Linked DNA regions of Homo sapiens. The protein of the gene in region 3 interacts with the protein of the main gene of each other region in a biochemical or structural test. Each region holds a gene or a part of one and is shown on either strand. Other genes may lie near its edges.

Region 1 (7,364 bases), on a different chromosome or scaffold from region 3:
GACCGAACAGAAGGGAAAGCCGCAGAGGTGGCGGCCACCCAGGCCAGACACAGAAGGTGGTCCTCCCATGCCTGGGCCGCCTCACTGGAGCTGTGTTTATGATCCTGGCGAGTATCTGGATGGCCCTGGCAACGGGTGCCCTCCGCAGCTCCCGCCCCCACCCGGGATGACTCAGTCCCCTTGAGGGAGGCCCAGGCGTCTGGTGCCAAGTCATGCTTGACGACTCCTGCTGTGAGGACGCCCGCTCCCACCATCCCTGGGGAGCCCCCAAGCACCAATACGGGCTGTTGCCTGACTCAGCACAGCTACCCCCAGCGCATCGTCCTGGCCCACCCACGGAGGCTGATGGTCTCCAGGCCTCATCCTCTGCCCCTCCTCATCCTCCACACCAGGTCTGTGCCTCCAGCCCCACTCTTTCCAGCTAGCTGCCACCTCCCCGTCCATGTTCCCGAGCAGCTCAGATCCAACAGGCCCCAGATTCAACTCAGCATCTTCCCCAAACCTGCTCGTCCTCCTCTGTCTCCATTGCGAGACGGGTACCACACCCTCCCCATTCTTTCCTGACCCAGGTCAGCAATCCGGGAGCCCTCCTTGTCACTCGTCCTTTCCCTGTTGCCCACCCTTGCTCCCCACAACCCCACACTTACTCTCCACTGCAGCCACACCACAGCTTCCCAAATTGCATACTCTGTTCTGCTGCCAGGCCTCAGTACAAGCTGTGCCTTCTGCCAGGAACACACCTCCCTCTCCTCTGCTGCCTGGAGGACAGCTCAGACATCGCCTCTTCTGAGCCCTCCTTGATCTCCCCACTACCTGCTGGGTGAGCTCACCAAGTCAAACCCCTTAGAAGTCCAGATTCTACCCACTGCTTCGTTTCCCACTATGTGGGTCTTCCCTGACTCCAGGCTAACACCTCCACCCCACCCTACCCCATCCTCCACACCAGCTGCTGGAGGGATTTCCAACATGCAAATGTGGTTATAGTTCTCCCAGACCTGGCCTTCCAGGAACTCGGAATGTCATGGATAGAGGAGCAGAAGTGGCCTCAGACTGGGGGCAAGGTTGGGGGGGGGGTCACAGGCTAGGGAGCAGCCAGGGACATGGACGCCTGGGATGCAAGCACAAATAGTCACGGAGCACCTGCTGTCTGCCAGACTCTGTGCAAGCCTGTGTGGGGAGATACAGCAGTGAACCAAAAAGACCAAGTCTCTGCTCTCATACAGTTTAATTTCTCGTGGGGGCAAGAAGCAACAAACAAGAAAGCCAGTGATTCAGATATGATATGTCAAGTGGTACATATAGGAAGAAAAATACAGCCGAGTAAGAAGGATCAAGAGAAAGGGGCTGGGAGATGCTGCTGATACAGTGTAGTTGAGGAAGGCCTTTTGGGAGCAGGACTGGAGCAGACACCTGAAGGAAGGAAGGGGCAGTAGGCAGTGTAGTTATCTGGGGAAGAGCATTTCAGGTGCAGGGACCAGCAGGTGCAAACGCCATGAGGGGACAGTGCTTGCTCAGTATGAAGAACAGCAGGGAGGCTGACGTGGCTGGAGTGGAGTCTTCCCCACATAAGAGGCACCTGATAGCAAGAGGAGTTACATCTGGAGAGAAAGCCCCCTCACTCATTGTGCTGGCCTCAGGGATGGCTTCCTAGAGGAGGTGGCACCTGAGCTCTCTTCTGAGCACTGAGCAGGATTTCAGGATGAGGCGAGGATGGAAGTTTGCACTGTGCATATAGGAGAGTCATTTCCTGGCTGGGACTCCGGGCTTGGTTTGGGGGTGGGGAGAGCTTGGTGGACAGAGCCCAGGAGGCCCCCAAAGCCAGGGGGAGGTTGTGAGCAGGGGAGTGCCTCGGTTAGGTGAGGTTTAAAACGACTCCCATGGCTGCTGTGAGGACTGACGGTGGGAGACCGAGGAAGAGGCGAAGGGTCCCCAGAGTGTGTGCGCCTGGGACGCAGTGGGGGGTCAATTTGTATGTACTGGAGGAAAGAGGGCAGGGCTTGGGGAGGCCAGCGCCACTTCCCTGGGATCCTCCAGCGCGCACAGGCTGTGTGCCCCTCCCACACTCCTGTGCCCGCCCTGCGGACACCACCAAGGCCCGGTCCTGTGGCCTGTGACACAGCCTTCTCTGCACAGCCCTGCAACGCCAAGACTTGAGCACACCCCCTCCCCTGACAGGCACACGCCCGTGTCCGCGTGACCCGCCCTCACACACCACTCCATCCTGTCCTGCACCCCCCACGCAGACACAGGCACACTCCCGCGTCCACGTGACACACGCACACCCGCCTCCAAACAGCACACGCAGGTCCCTGCGCACGTGGACACCCCCCCAGCCACCAGCCCTGCGCCTCCCGGGCCCCGAAGCCGCAGCGCCCGCCTCTGCCGCCCCCTCTCGCCCCAGCCAAGGCAGGACCCTGCGCAGCCTGAGCCGCGCGCCGCCGCCGCCCCATTCATCTCCCACCCCGCCCCCGGCTCCTGCAGGAAGACGCTCCGGCGGGCCGTGGGAGGAGCGCTCCGCGGAGAACCGCACGTGGGTGCCCCGGGCCGGGCCCACTCCGCACAGACGTGGCCTCCACCAGGAGCCGGGCGCGGGGGACAGTGCACCGGGGATGGATGCGGTCCGCAGACAGAAGCGGGGAAGAACGCAGACGGCGGGGCACCCGCGGCGATGCGGTCCCGGCGGCCGGCGCAGACCCGAGCAGACTCCGCGAGGCACCCCGCAGACCCGGCCCCGCAGACAGAAGGGGAAGGATCCCCGCCCTGACCAGATCCCAGCTCCCTCGTAGACGCGGCCTGGCAGACCCCCCCCGCCTCTCCCTTGCAGGCTCGGGGCAGGTGTTAAGGCGTTCGTCCTCCTGCTCCTCGCCCGCGTCCCCGCCCCGCCGATCCCTACCTGGGCGCCGGGCGACAGTGTCCGCGGCCCGGCGGGCGGCCCCACTCGCTCCTGCTGCGCGCCCCGCCCCGCCCCGCCCCGCCCCACCGCCTCGCTGGGGCCCAGATCGCCGAGCTCAGCCCGCGGGCGCCGCGGCTCCGGGCAGCGCTCGCTGCCCCGCCCACCGCCGCGCCCGGCCGGCGCTCATTGGTCGGAGCGAACGGCCCCGCCAGCGCCGCCCAATCGGAGCCCGGGACTCCCGCCCCCTCCTGGACTAAGGGACCGCGGTGGGCGGCGCGGTAGGGGCCCTCCCTCCCCTGCGGCGGGGCCGACCTCGCCACGCCCCCGGCGTCCTGGGGTCCCCGAAGTCCCTCCCGGCCGCGGCGTGGGCCCTTCTCCTGGGCCTGCAGGGGACCGTGCTTCCCCGCCAAACCCTTTGCGCCCCCATCCCGGCCTGCAGGAGCCAGAGCGCCCCTCCCTCCCGGGCGAGGCGCGGTGCGTGCGAGGGAGGGGCGAGGCCCGGGGAGGAAGGCCTTGAATGGCAGGCCCAGGAGTGTAGCTTCTGCGGGGCGGGGGCAGAGAGGCCGAGAGGTGGCTTAGCACAGAGTGAAGTGCTTGCTCGGTGAGCCGGCGACAGGAATGGCCTAGCGAGGGCCGAGGGAGTAGAGGGAACTCAGCAGGACAGTGAGGTGACCTTCGCTGTGGCTGTTCCTGGGGACTCTGCCGCCACCTCTTCCCCTAACGCCTCCGCGTGTGAATCCTCTGGCACCACCACTTGCCCCATATCCTTCCCCCAAATCTAACCTCCTGCGTCCCTGTCTCGAAGTGGAGCCAGGAGCCTGGGAGTCACCTGCTGCCTCCCTGTTTCCTGCTCCAACCAGTCCATCTCCAGGCCCTGCCATACTGCCTCTTAACTATCCCTGGAATCGGCCCACTCCTCTCCACCCCACTTCCCCTCCCTTAGCTCAGGCTACCACCATCTTGTCCCTGATTGCTGCAGCAGCCTCCTCCCTGGCCTCCAGCCCCATCCAGTCTCACCTCCTACTAGCCTTTCTCTCCCTGGCACCCAGAGCAAGTTTTCAGGAACACAAGTCCACCGAGAGGCATTTTCTATGGCTCACCGTGAGAATAGGTCTAATCAAGCCCTGTATAGCCTTACTCCCAGCCACCTGCCTGTTTAACGCCTACTCGTCTTTCAGGGTTCAATTCAATCCTACTTCTGCCTGGAAACCTTCTCCATGACCTCCCCACTTCCAGCATGGGTTAGTGGCCCCACCCAGGTACTTCCTTGTACCTGGCATCTGTTTACCTGCTGGTTCCTCATTGGGACTGGGAGCTCCTGGATGGCAAGCACTGTGCCTGATTCGTCCAGCACACAGCCTGTCGCATGGCACAGGTGCTCAGTGGATGTTGTTGAATGAATAATTCCAGCAACTTGAGTGTGGCTTTTGACCTCATGGTTCAGGATACCAGCTAGAGCTCCAGCAATCACATAACGCATTCCAGGCAGTGGAGTGGAGAAAAGGATGAAGAAGAGGGCAGAGGGTCTGCACCAGCTCTCTTTTCAGGAAAGTTCCCAGAAGTTGCCACGTGGCACTTTCACATACACCGCTTGAGCTTACTTAACATGACCAGACCCAGCTGCAAGAGAAAGCTGGGAAATGCAGCTTCCATTCTGGGCAGCCACATGCCCAACCAAGAACCAAGGACTGAATTGCTACCGGGAGAACAGATATCCGGAACAACTAGTGGACTCCACCATTGAGAGGGTGGATAGATTGAGGGGCAGAGCTCGACTGTATGCCAGGTGCTGTTTACAGGTCTTTCCTCAACCCTACTAAAAGCTATTATTGTCCGGGTGCAGTAGCTCATGCCGGTAATCCCAGCCCTTTGGAAGGCTGAGGTGGAGCGTATCATTTGAGCCCAGGAGTTTGAGAACAGCCTGGTCCACATAGTGAAACTCTGTCTCTATTTAAAAAAAAAAAAAAAAAGAAGTTGTTATTATCCTTGACTCACAGAGGAGGCTTGGAGAGTTAAGCCACTTCCCCCAAGGACACACAGTGAACTGTGGCAGAGCTGCAATTGAAACCTGTCTTTTCCTTGCACGCCAGACAGGCTGGGAAGTCAGGAAAGGGTGTGTCCTAGGAGCTGCTGGAAGGAAATCTTTCGACAAGGAAGGCTTGGACAACAATGTGAGAAGCTGTCAGGCCAAGCAGGATATGGGGCCCAAGTGTCTGCTTAAGACTTGGCAACCAGGACACTGCCAGTGACCTTGGCAAGGGCACCTAGGAGAAGTGGTTGGGGTGGAGGCCAATTGCAGAGGGAAGTGTGGACTGGTCTTTCTGGAAGGGTTGCAGTGAGGGGAGAGGGGCAGAGCTGCTGGGGAACCTGGGCCAGGAGGAGGCAGAAGAGGGGGACAGATGTAGGGGTAGGAGAATGGAGGTGGCTTCTGCTGGGCAGCCTCTGGGCTGGGTGGTGAGGCTGAATACAGAGGAGGGACCCTTTTCTGCTCACTTGGAAGGGAAGGGGGCAGAAAGTGCAAAAGCAGGTGTGTCTGGAGAAAGAAGGGGGGGCAGAAGAGGAAGTTCCAGTCTTATAAAATCTAAATGATAGGTCTTGGTTGGGGAAGAGGGCAGAAGGCCAAGGCCCTGAGGGAGATGGCAGGGGCTGGCCTGTGTTGTCCAGTCTGGTAGCCACTAGTCACATGTAACTATTTAAATTAATTAAAAGTAAATTGGGCAGTCATGGTGGCTCCCGCCTGTAATCCCAGCACTTTGGAAGGCCGAGGCAGGCGGATCACCTGAGGTCAGGAGTTTGAGACCAGCCTGGCCAACCAACATGGTGAAACCCCATCTCTACTAAAAATACAAAAAAAAATTAGCAAGGCGTGGTGGTGGGCACCTGTAATCCTAGCTACTTGGGAGGCTGAGGCAGGAGAATTGCTTGAGCTCAGGGGCTGGAGGCTGCAGTGAGCCGAGATCGTGCCACTGCACTCCAGCCTGGGCGACAGAGCAAAATTCCGTCTCAAAAAAAAAATATTGATTAATTAATTAAAAGTAAATAAAATACGAATTTCATTTCCTTGGCTGCATATTTCCACCGAGGCCACCTGTGGCTTCTGGGTACCCTATTGGACAGCATAGATAGAGAATATTTCCATCATTCCAGAAGGTTCTATGGGACGGCACTGGTCTAGACAGAGCATGGTGACTGGGTGGGGGATGCTGCCCAGAGATCCTACCTGGCTGTAAATCCAGGCCTGAGGTCATGCCCACAGCAGGGCCCTCCACACAGCCTCAGTCAAGTCCCTCCTCCCCTCTTTGGGATTCCGCCAGATCTCCCTCCTGGCACAGCCAGCCCCTTCCTCCCCACTGTTTCACGAGGCCACTCCTGGGGTTCTCTACTTGTGCCACTGCCAGGCCTCTCCCAGCCATGGAGGGTTGGGAAGAGCGCCAATGTTCAGGGCTGTGCCAAGATGGCAACCCGTGGACAGAGGTGAGCTGACCTCTCCACCCAGCACTGACCCTGCTGGGCTCAGGGCGTATGAGTCGGCTCACTGGTCCCCACCGGCAGATCCAGAGGGATCTCAGAGATTGCCCAGCTCAGCCCCACATTTCACAGACGAGCACACTGTGTTTCAGAGAGGTCTGGAAAGAGAGCACGGACGGCAGAGGTTTGTCCTCATTCCCTTTATTGTACTCCACCCGTCGCTTCCCCCAGACCTTCTGTTCAGACAGAGCCAGGCAGGCCTTGGGAGCTGGGGCTGAGCCACAGGCAGGGAGCCCAGGATTTGGCTGGGGCTCCCACCCCAACCCGAGGTAGCTGAGTAAGGATTCATGGCTGGGAGGGCTGTCCTGGCCTGGCACACTTGGAGAGAAGCCTTTCCCTATGGAGGTGACATGGCACGGACCATGTGTGTGTGCTTGGGGGTGTAGATGTGTGTAGATGGTTGTGTTTGCAGGGCCCAAGCTGTTCACATACACAGTGTGGAAGGATGCTGTGTGCACGTAGGTGGTGTGTACACTGGGTTGTGTGCATGAGACACTGTGTGGCACGTGAGCACACAACACACATGCTGAAGGTGTTTGAGACCCTGTTCAGTGTCTGCACCTGAACAGGAAGTGCAGGCTCAGGGCTAAGTCTGACTCCCGCTCAGGAGCTTAGAGTCAGAAAGTTCGAGGACGGCACTTCTTAAACTTAGGTCCCAGAATGGCCTGGGGAGTTTGCCATCCACACAGATCATACGGCCAGCCCTGGAGCTTTTGGTTCAGGAGGTCTGGGGGTGGGCCCAGGAGCTTGCATTGTCGATAAGTTCCCCAGGGAAACCGAAGGCCAGGAAGAAACAGGGCTCAAGCAGGGCTGTCTAATAGAACTTTCTTTGACAGTGAAAATGCCCCGAGCTGTCCAGTATGGCAGCCACTAACCACACGTATCTACTGAGCAGTTGAAATGTGGCTAGTTCAGCCGAGGAATTGAATTTTGTGTTTCATTC
Region 2 (7,032 bases), on a different chromosome or scaffold from region 3:
CAGACATGTCAACTCCCTCTTCGTGCCTGCAGTCGTATCTTGAATCCAGCAAGTTTCGACTGCATTGTGGACTGTGGCAGCACAGGATGACCAAGCCTGAGGCTGTGCTGCAGCCGGAGGCTTTGTCTCTCAGCTACCGTGTGGCCTCTCCAGCCTCTACAATGCAGCTTCTAAGAGCTTCAGTGACTCTTTAATTTATTGTCTGAAAAGCTGTTACAAACAACATTGGATTTTAAAGAGCTCATCACACATATTTTTGAAATGTTCCTTTTAAGTGTAAACTATTCCATGTAAATTTAAAAATTCCTTTTACCTTTTTTTTTTTTTTTTTTCCAATTTTGAGACAGGGTCTCACTCTGTCACCCAGGCTGGGGGGCAGTGGCAAGCTCTCTGCTCACTGCAGCTTCAACTTCCAAGGCTCAGGTAATCCTCCTACCTCAACCTCCCCAAGCAGCTAGGACTACAGGTGTGCAGCACCATGCCTGGTTGATTTTTGTATTTTTTGTAGAGACAGGGTTTCAGTTTCTTGCCCAGGCTGCTCTCGAATTCCTGGCTCAAGTGATCCACCCACCTTGGCCTCCAAAGTGCTGGGATTACAGGTGTGATCCTGAACTTAACTTACCGTATTCTCATGTAGGCACAAGGAAAACTTCAGGATTTCAAAATAATGATTCAGTGGATGATAAAATTACAGAGGCTATAGCAGGTATAAATGAAGAGATAGTAAGAGCTCAGTAGAAATATTGAATATTAATCTCAAAAAATGCATACATTGGCTGGCGCGGTGGCTCACACCTGAAATCCCAGCACTTTGAGAAGCCGAGGTGGGCAGATCACTCGAGGTCAGGAGTTCGAAACCAGACTGGCCAACATGGTGAAACCCCTTCTCTACTAAAAATACAAAAATTAGCTGGACGTGGTGGCATGTGCCTGTAATCCCAGCTACTCAGGAGGCTGAGACAGGAGAATCACTTTAACCCAGGAGGCGGAGGTTGTGTGAGCAGAGATCACGCCACTGCACTCCAGCCTGGGCGACAGAGCAAGACTCTCTCTCATTTAAAAAACAAAACATATTGATACCAAAAACCTATGACCTTAGAAAAGACCAAAAGCACGCAGATTCCATTCTACAGCATGTGACCACTGAAAAACTCACCATACACGCACAGAGAATGACAGCAAAAAGGCAAATAACATCTTAGTATTACAAAAAAAACTGCCCTGACCTCGGGGATTTGGTGGCCACACACTGAGAATGCAAACCACTACTGTAAAGAGCAGGTGCTGGACAGACCTCCCAGCAGCCAGACAGATCCTGCAAGATCTCAGGAGTCATCAGCTTCCCAAAAGGACCTAAAATCTGAAGGAAGTGGGAAGGGGAAAGAGAAACCTGAAGACAAAGGAAGCAGGCAGGAGAATGTGTATCCTGACTTGCCGCCATCACCAGGCTAAGGTACCCAGACGGACCCCAAGGCCCTCTAAGAACAGCCCCAGGCAGAGGGGCCTCTTCTGGGAGTCACCAAAGGAGCTGAAACACACACACACCTGCAGACAGCACCTCTCAGCTGGGATCTGCAGAGAGAGCGCTCCTGGCCAAGTACTTGGAGTGGCCACAGCAGCCCTTCGTGGGGACCCCAGCACACACGAGCCCGGGAAGCTCCTTGCATAGCCAGGCACACGCCTCCTTGCTGCTTGGAGCTGCGCAGCACAGCACGGCTCAGATTGCTCCCATCAAGAGCCCTCCTCTCCTGCTCAGTACACATTAACATCTCTAGCAATCACACTAGGTGTGATTCAGAGCCCCTAGCTGTAGACTGTTGCTGCCTGCCAGCATCTCTGCACAGGTTTTCTAGAGACAGGTGTGGCGAACCGCATAGAGCCGTGGTCTTCCCCACCTGCCGGGGCGGCCCAGAGCTCAGCTCCTTCCTCTCATTCCTCCCCACAAGTCTCTCAAGTCACATGTGTCCTGTCCCTGCCTAGCCAGGCCCTCAACTCCCCCTCGTCTTGTGCTTCCACTCCAGCATGCCTTCCTGCAAGGCCCTCTCCCCACCCCCTTGGGCTCCTCTCTGCCCACACAAAAGGGAAAAGCAGGTAAAAATATTAGGGGGGAAGCCCGTCTTACCAGATTAAAATGGAAAACATAAAATATAAATAGGGACAGGATGGACTTGGTAAGAATTTGCAGCTTCCATACAAAAACACAGTATCGAGACTGGAGAGAAACTGAAGAATGTTTGCAAAACATACAACAAGGAATAGTCTCCATACACGTGGCTTTTAAAAATCCATGTTAAAAAGAGGCACCAGCCTGGCCAACACAGGGAAAGCCTGTCTCTATCAAAAAATACAAAAATTAACCAGGTGTGGTGGCAGGTGCCTGTAATTCCGGCTACTTGAGAGGTTGAGGCAGGAGAATTGCTTGAACCCAGGAGGCAGAGGTTGCAGTGAGCTGAGATCGCGCCACTGCATTCCAGCCTGGGTGACAGAGCAACACTCTGTCTCAAAAAAAAAGATGCAAAATATACAAGAAAGAATAGTCAAAGGACACAAAGTACCTCAAAAAAGAAACACAAATGGTCATGAACACAGGAGACATCTGCCTCAATAGGAATAAAACAGAAATTCACAAGTTTGTTTTTGGAGCATCAAAACACTCTCAGGCAGGCAAGAGCATTGGGAAAGGCAGATTCCTGGCGCCCCCGCGACAGATCCCCAGCCCTGAAAACACGCACGCCCTCCATCACACACTGCCCCTGGCACTCACCTTAGAAGACATAAATGGACAAGTGGGGAAAGCTATGTGGAAAAGAGGGGCTACAACAGCAAACCTCATAAACTCCCAAGTGGCCAGGTCCAGGCCGCGTCTGTCCATACCACAGTGACTCCATGGCCACAACCAGCAGGTCCAAATGCCCGGCAGAGGAGGGGAGCGCCCGGCGGTCACAACCCACTCAGCCCCTGGGCCGGCTGCCTCCTAAGCACCTGTTTCCAACTGTGCACTTACGATGTGCTCCTTGGCCAAGCGTCCAAGGCTGCTGAGGGAGGCAGTGACAAGGCAAAGGCACCCACCATAAGCCCCCACGTGTTCACGCTGCAATTCTGCAAAAAGCATTGCTTATGTCCATAAGTTCTTACCAAGGGTTTCCGCCAGCCTGCTTCTCCAACAACAACCTCTTCTCATCTTCGGAAAACTGTAAGTCCAGTTCAAAGGAGTTCGAGTCCAGATCGTGAATGTACTGCTCTATGTTGCTGCCTGACCTCTGGGGCAGGCCCGTGTCGGAGGCTGACAGGGAGTGTGAGGAGGAGGACGAAGACACCTGCATGCAGCCAAACTGGCTCAGGAGATTGTCATACTGCAGAGAAGAAGGGAAAGTGAGAACCGCACCTTCACTTGCCTCTAAGGTCCTAAAACCCCAGCCCCTCCCGCACTGCCGCTGTCAGGCCTTGGGAGCTCGCACACAGCAAGGCGCAAGGCGACAGGGTGGGCAGCCCTGATTCTCCTCCATGGGACACCTGGCCACAGAACCGAGGCCTCACTGGATCCTGCCTGGTCGGGCTCCTCTTCCCATGGGAATCAGGGCCAGAGAGGGGCGAAGCCTCAGATTTCCTCTCCAGGAAGAGGGGACCTGGGCCCTTACCCTGCGGGCCCCGTGAATGCCAGTGCTGCCCCCCGGAGGTGGGGGCTGGGATGCCTGCTGGGAAGAGAAGGGGCCCAAGGAGGCCTGGTGGCAGATCCATCACACAGGCTGGCAGACAGGGCCTCCGTGCAAGACCTTGTTGGGCCCCAGGTGTCTTAGGAGTCTGAGTCTGTGGTAGATGCTAAATATTTTGATTTGACTAAACACATTCAATTGTTTAAAAGACATTCCTCTTAATCCCAGCAAAGATAAACTAAACTTACTGTAGATAACGCTGCCTGTTACTCTAGGAAAAAGACAAGCTAGTGTCGACAACGGAAACTCACTCATAAACGTGCCAAGCGGACACAGCCTGTGCACTAACACGCTCCTGGCACTGCCAAGGCCAGAGAGTCCCTGGGCAAGGGAAGCCACCTCCCCGGCTGCAGGCCCCACATCTGAGCTCTGTGGAGGCCAAGGACAAGGGGAAAGAAAAGGTGCCACGAGCAATGGCTAGGATAAGAGTGCGGCATGCCCTTCCACGTCCTCCGTGCCTCCAGACGCAGGCCCTGGCTGCTGCCCCACGCAACCATCCACACATGCAGCGTCCCCCATGTGTTCACACTCCTACAGCTGCACCACAGCCCCGCCTCACAGCCCTAAAGCCTCGCACCCAGCTGGGCTGGAGCAAGGTGCTCGCCAACGGGCATGGTGGAAACGCCCGACGCTGCCGGCCCCTCCACGCCGGCCCCTCCACGCCGACCCCTCCACGGGGTGTGGGCCTGCCCAGCCTGCTTGTCTCCAACACTGCCCAATGGTCACACTGCCCCGGCACTTACAGGACCTCAGGAGAGCAGGAGCCAACGAAGCACCTGCTCTCCTGCCTTGGCCCAAGGGCAGGTACCATGGCCAACCTCCCTGGCTGAAGGGGACGCCCAGTGCCCATTCCCCATGAAGGAGGGGGTGCGGCCCTGCAGGGAGGGAGGAGGTACAGCCCTGAAGTCTCCTTCCATGCTTGACACCGTTTGCCAAGACTCACTCACTGTCCCCGTGTGAGGTCTGGCCTGGGAGCTCCCTGCCTGGACCCACTCCAAGGCTTTCAAACCACACAGCTGTGCAGAGCTAAGGATGGGCCATCTAACAGGCGGCTGCCAACAAATGGAGCCTGGCTTCACAGACGGCAACAGAAGCCACGTATCAAGCAGCCCCAGCTCTCAGTAGGCCCAGGCACAGGGGCCTGCACAGGTATGCGGCAAGTGCAAGCACACACACCCCCACACTCAGAGAAGCTCCCCAGGCATTGAGACTGGAGACAACTGAAGCCTGTGCTGCTCCTTCAGAGCCCAGCTACCTCCCTGGGAGCAATGGAGCACAGAGCCCACGGGAGAACGGCCACCAGCCAGTCGCGAGCAAAACCTCTGCAGCAACAGCAGGCCCAGCAGGGAGAGCACTGCAGCCCCGTGGCACCTGCCAGCCGTAACCAAACACCACGCAGGAGCAGCTGAGTGGCACACAGGGTGGGGGCAAGGGCCTCGAGGCTCCCAGGCCTCTGCATACATGAAAGCTGCAGGTGGCCACATCAAGCGGCACAGACTCCGCTCCCCAAGCCTGGCTCCCTTAGAGTTTGGGCTCAAAGGATGTCGGGAGGATGAGGGGCGTTACACAGCAGGTAGGGGCGTTGGGAAACTTTGACACTAGCAGAAATTTAGCTGTGGATGACTTTTAGATAAAATCTAGAATTCCCAGCTGGGTGCAGTAACTCATGCCTAAAACCCCAGCAGTTTGGGAGGCCGAGGCGGGTAGATCACTTGAGGTCAGGAGTTCCACACCAGCCTGGCCAACACGGCGAAACCCTGTCTCTACTAAAAATACAAAAATTAGCCGGGCATGGTGGTGCACACCTGCAGTTCCCGCTAGTCGGGAGGGCGAGACAGGAGAATCGCTTGAACCCACAGCGGCAGAGGTTGCAGTGAGCCGAGATCGCGCCACTACACTCCAGCCTGAGTGACACACCAAGACCCTGTCTCAAAACAAACAAAATCTGGACTTCCTCAGTCATGGAAAGTGGAACTCCGTACACGGTGCCAGTTAGAATAAGCCATGGCGACAGAAGTCAAACCAGAAAAATGGATCTCATGATAACAGCACTTAAGTACGAGGGGGTCACGGGGGAGGTGGCAAGAGGAACTCAGAGGAAACAAGGCTGAAGTGGGCGACATGCCTGCCTCTCACAACACCCTCGGTCCCTTGGGCACATGGTCCACGCTCTCTACGAGAAGCTTAAAGAGCCAAGCGTGCTGAAGACCCCATGGCTGTGGTCAAGCTGGGAGACCAGCAGCCTCAGAGCCTACTCAGCACTGAAGAAGGTACCAGTGTCCCCACCAACGCCACGTCCCAAAAGTTCAAGCACACAACACTCGGGGGTTTCTGTGGAAAGACAGGCAGTGTTCTGGAGCATCTTGGCCGCACAGTTGTACAAGCACCAAGCCAAGCGCAGATGCGACAGGCCGGGCAGGAGGCCCCGTACGTGGGACCCCGGGGCCAGTGCCGGGGGTGCTCGGCGTCCGGTTCTAGCGGCACCCTGTGGGTGGAAACTCACTAGCCTGTCCACGGCCACGGAAATGAGGAGAAAATGACCCACCCAGCACCTCACCCGCCACTGCCTCACGGCAGCAAAGACTACAACCACCAGCAGGCCTGCCGCAGTGGCACAGACACCCTCCCCTTTCGGCTACAAATCACACGTGGGTCTGGCGCACGGGCATGAAGCCCAGTGCACGGAGGACCCAGTGCCACCTGCCTCGCCCGCCATCCCGGCCAGCTTACATTGCCATAGCAGTCCTCGTCGTCTTCCGACATAGCCGGCAGGTAAGCGGTGAGCTTCGGAGGCGTCTGCTGGTGCAGGTTCTCCCACGTGACGGACTCGAAGAACGGGTGTGCTTTAAGAGGTCCGTATCCTTCCATTTCCTCACAGCCTAACCGCTTTGTGGCATCTAAAACCTTAAGTAACAATCAAGACAAGTCACTGCCAGGGTGAAAACGTGATTCTGACCAAAGAAACCCAAACCTGGTAGCCGGGCACGGTGGCTCATGCCTGTCATCCCAGCACTTTGGGAGGCTGAGGCGGGCAGATCACCTGAGGTCAGGAGTTCGAAACCATCCCGGCCAACATGGTGACAACCCGTCTCTACTAAAAATATAAAAATCAGCTGCGCGTGGTGGTGCACGCCTATAATCCCAGCTACTCGGGAGGCTGAGGGAGGAGAATCGCTTGAACCCGGGAGGCAGAATTTGCGGTGAGCCACGATCGCACCATGGCACTCCAGCCTGTGCGACGAGAGCAAAACTCCATCTCCAAAAAAAAAAAAAAATATATATTTATCTCATCTCATCATAAGTCCCTTTCCATTTCCAA
Region 3 (3,601 bases):
AGGGGGTGCTGAACCTAGTACGACAAACTGGATAGTTTAAAATAATAAATGTATTCTCTCATAGTTCTGGACGCTAGAAGTTTGAAAGTGAGGTGTAGGCAGGCCACGCTCCCTCTGAAGGCTCTAGGGAAGAATCCTTCCTAGGCACTCTCCCAGCTTCTGGTGGCTTCTGGCAACCCTTGGTGTTCCTTGGCTTGTAGATGCGTCACTCCAGTCTTTGCCTCCACTGTCACATGGCATTCTTCCTGTGTGTGTGTCAAAATCTCACTATCCTTATAAGGACACCTGTAATTGCACTTAGGGCACACCCTAATGTCCAGTATGACTTCATCTTAACTAATTACATCTGCAAAGACCCTATTTCCAAATAAGCTCACATTCACAGGAACCTAGGGTCAGAACTTCAGCGTATCTTTTGGCGGGGGATACAGTTCAACCACTGCAAAGTCTAATAATGCTCTTCCTACTAACTGCATAGCTAGTTCACTTGTAGTTGGCATCATGGAGAACTAAGGGAAGTTAAAGCTTGTGAAATTTAACTCTTCCACTTAAAATAATTGATGCTTCCATCCTTGATGACCAGAGTTTCCTGTGAGGTAGGTCAGAGTACAACTTCCTGCTGAGTAGCTGTGCTTCCTTTCACTAGGAGCTGGGGGTACTTTCATGTCACTTATGAATTGTTCTTCATTTTGGTTTGGGAGAGGGCTGGGAGTATCAGTTAGGGTTCCATGTGTAGCCACACAGGGCGAAGCTCTGGCCACTGGATCTGTGTGATGTTCCATCTGATCTGTGAAGCCCCACCATCTGTTAATGTGTATTTGAGGAGTGGTTGGTTCTTTCCAGAGTATAAAGCTGGAAGCAGAGTCTGGAACACTTCCAGTCTGTTGTCTTTGAACATTTGACAAAGGGACCGTACGATCTTACTGTTCAGAGTATCTTTTTTTTTTTTTTTTTTTTCTTTTGAGACGGAGGCTTGCTCTGTCGCTAGCTAGGCTGGAGTGCAGTGGCACGATCTGGGCTCACTGCAACCTCCGGGTTCAAGAGTTTCTCTTGCCTCAGCCTCCCAAGTAGCTGGGACTACAAGCGCGTGCCACCACGCCCAGCTAATTTTTGTATTTTTAGTAGAGATGGGGTTTCACCATGTTGGCCAGAATGGTCTCGATCTCTTGACCTCATGATCTGCCCGCCCTTGGCCTCCTGAAGTGCTGGGATTACAGGCATAAGCCATCGCGCCCGGCCTGTTCAGAGTATCTTTTGCAGAATGGCTGAAGCTCGAGGTTTTCTTCTTCACCATTATGTACTGCTGCTGTACAACCTTTTCATAATTATCCTTAGTCCCATTCCTCTACCAAGGTGAAAGCAACATCTTATCAGACCCGAATTATGAATTTCTCAAGCCCCTATGATTTTCTGTTTTGGGTGCCAAGTATTTATCTCTTCTGTTAGACTATAGTCTTTCTTCACATAGGGTTCATGTCTATATTGGTTTTATCCATGGGTGGTTTTTATTCTCCAGAGTGACTGACCTGTTCGTAATTCCGTTCTTGAGAAGGATTGTTGATTATGTTGAAGGGAAGGCTTCTTACCAAGATTTTCAGATTTTGCTTTCAATGTTTATCTTTTTGGGGTTTTGCAGGTGACAGAGCTGAATGAACCTCTCTCCAATGAAGATCGAAATCTCCTCTCTGTGGCCTACAAGAATGTGGTTGGTGCCAGGCGATCTTCCTGGAGGGTCATTAGCAGCATTGAGCAGAAAACCATGGCTGATGGAAACGAAAAGAAATTGGAGAAAGTTAAAGCTTACCGGGAGAAGATTGAGAAGGAGCTGGAGACAGTTTGCAATGATGTCCTGTCTCTGCTTGACAAGTTCCTGATCAAGAACTGCAATGATTTCCAGTATGAGAGCAAGGTGTTTTACCTGAAAATGAAGGGTGATTACTACCGCTACTTAGCAGAGGTCGCTTCTGGGGAGAAGAAAAACAGTGTGGTCGAAGCTTCTGAAGCTGCCTACAAGGAAGCCTTTGAAATCAGCAAAGAGCAGATGCAACCCACGCATCCCATCCGGCTGGGCCTGGCCCTCAACTTCTCCGTGTTCTACTATGAGATCCAGAATGCACCTGAGCAAGCCTGCCTCTTAGCCAAACAAGCCTTCGATGATGCCATAGCTGAGCTGGACACACTAAACGAGGATTCCTATAAGGACTCCACGCTGATCATGCAGTTGCTGCGAGACAACCTCACCCTCTGGACGAGCGACCAGCAGGATGAAGAAGCAGGAGAAGGCAACTGAAGATCCTTCAGGTCCCCTGGCCCTTCCTTCACCCACCACCCCCATCATCACCGATTCTTCCTTGCCACAATCACTAAATATCTAGTGCTAAACCTATCTGTATTGGCAGCACAGCTACTCAGATCTGCACTCCTGTCTCTTGGGAAGCAGTTTCAGATAAATCATGGGCATTGCTGGACTGATGGTTGCTTTGAGCCCACAGGAGCTCCCTTTTTGAATTGTGTGGAGAAGTGTGTTCTGATGAGGCATTTTACTATGCCTGTTGATCTATGGGAAATCTAGGCGAAAGTAATGGGGAAGATTAGAAAGAATTAGCCAACCAGGCTACAGTTGATATTTAAAAGATCCATTTAAAACAAGCTGATAGTGTTTCGTTAAGCAGTACATCTTGTGCATGCAAAAATGAATTCACCCCTCCCACCTCTTTCTTCAATTAATGGAAAACTGTTAAGGGAAGCTGATACAGAGAGACAACTTGCTCCTTTCCATCAGCTTTATAATAAACTGTTTAACGTGAGGTTTCAGTAGCTCCTTGGTTTTGCCTCTTTAAATTATGACGTGCACAAACCTTCTTTTCAATGCAATGCATCTGAAAGTTTTGATACTTGTAACTTTTTTTTTTTTTTGGTTGCAATTGTTTAAGAATCATGGATTTATTTTTTGTAACTCTTTGGCTATTGTCCTTGTGTATCCTGACAGCGCCATGTGTGTCAGCCCATGTCAATCAAGATGGGTGATTATGAAATGCCAGACTTCTAAAATAAATGTTTTGGAATTCAATGGGTAAATAAATGCTGCTTTGGGGATATTATCTCTGTTTGGTCTTGATTTTTCCCCCCTCGAGGAACTGTTTAACCAGTCACAAATTGTGGTTTGAATCTCTCAAACATGGAAGCATTTGTAGTACATTATCCAAGTTTTCCTCCCCTCTCATTACATTACATATTTTGCAGCACACACATAGGATTCATAGATTTTAAATAGTTTTCTGTGAACCCAGCTAACATAGCCTCTCTGATCAATTTTCCTGATAACTGGTGCTTTTTAATGAGCCTCGCAGAACAAAATGCAGTCTTCCACAGTATAGCACCTCTGAAACATTGTGGGCTCTGTTGAACTTGAGAGTGTATTTAACACTGAAGGTAAATACGGAGCTTATACACGTCCTCAAGTTTTCTTAATGTAATAAGATACTAGGGGCACAACTTGCACCCCTGAAATCTTTAGTGATTATTGTTAAGCATTTAGTATTCTTTAAAATAGAAAAGCAAACCTCATTGAGTTAAAAAGCCTAACCTACCCCTTAAACAC

The links. The genes of interacting proteins can lie anywhere in the genome.
Region 1: the proteins of YWHAH (region 3) and CAMKK1 form a complex in vitro, tested with the Homo sapiens proteins (one study listed by IntAct).
Region 2: the proteins of YWHAH (region 3) and PDPK1 form a complex in vitro, tested with the Homo sapiens proteins (one study listed by BioGRID).

The regions. Positions count from the first base shown.
Region 1 is NC_000017.11:3,890,046-3,897,409, forward strand, and holds the start of CAMKK1 (calcium/calmodulin-dependent protein kinase kinase 1), read right to left. Parts: upstream 3,009-7,364; 5' UTR 2,894-3,008; intron 699-2,893; exon of another isoform or gene 686-698; coding exon of another isoform or gene 648-685; intron 1-647. UniProt on the Homo sapiens protein: Calcium/calmodulin-dependent protein kinase that belongs to a proposed calcium-triggered signaling cascade involved in a number of cellular processes. Phosphorylates CAMK1, CAMK1D, CAMK1G and CAMK4. Involved in regulating cell apoptosis.
Region 2 is NC_000016.10:2,582,997-2,590,028, reverse strand, and holds part of PDPK1 (3-phosphoinositide-dependent protein kinase 1), read right to left. Parts: intron 6,618-7,032; coding exon 6,444-6,617; intron 3,354-6,443; coding exon 3,136-3,353; intron 1-3,135. UniProt on the Homo sapiens protein: Serine/threonine kinase which acts as a master kinase, phosphorylating and activating a subgroup of the AGC family of protein kinases.
Region 3 is NC_000022.11:31,954,503-31,958,103, forward strand, and holds the end of YWHAH (14-3-3 protein eta), read left to right. Parts: intron 1-1,636; coding exon 1,637-2,290; 3' UTR 2,291-3,101; downstream 3,102-3,601. UniProt on the Homo sapiens protein: Adapter protein implicated in the regulation of a large spectrum of both general and specialized signaling pathways. Binds to a large number of partners, usually by recognition of a phosphoserine or phosphothreonine motif.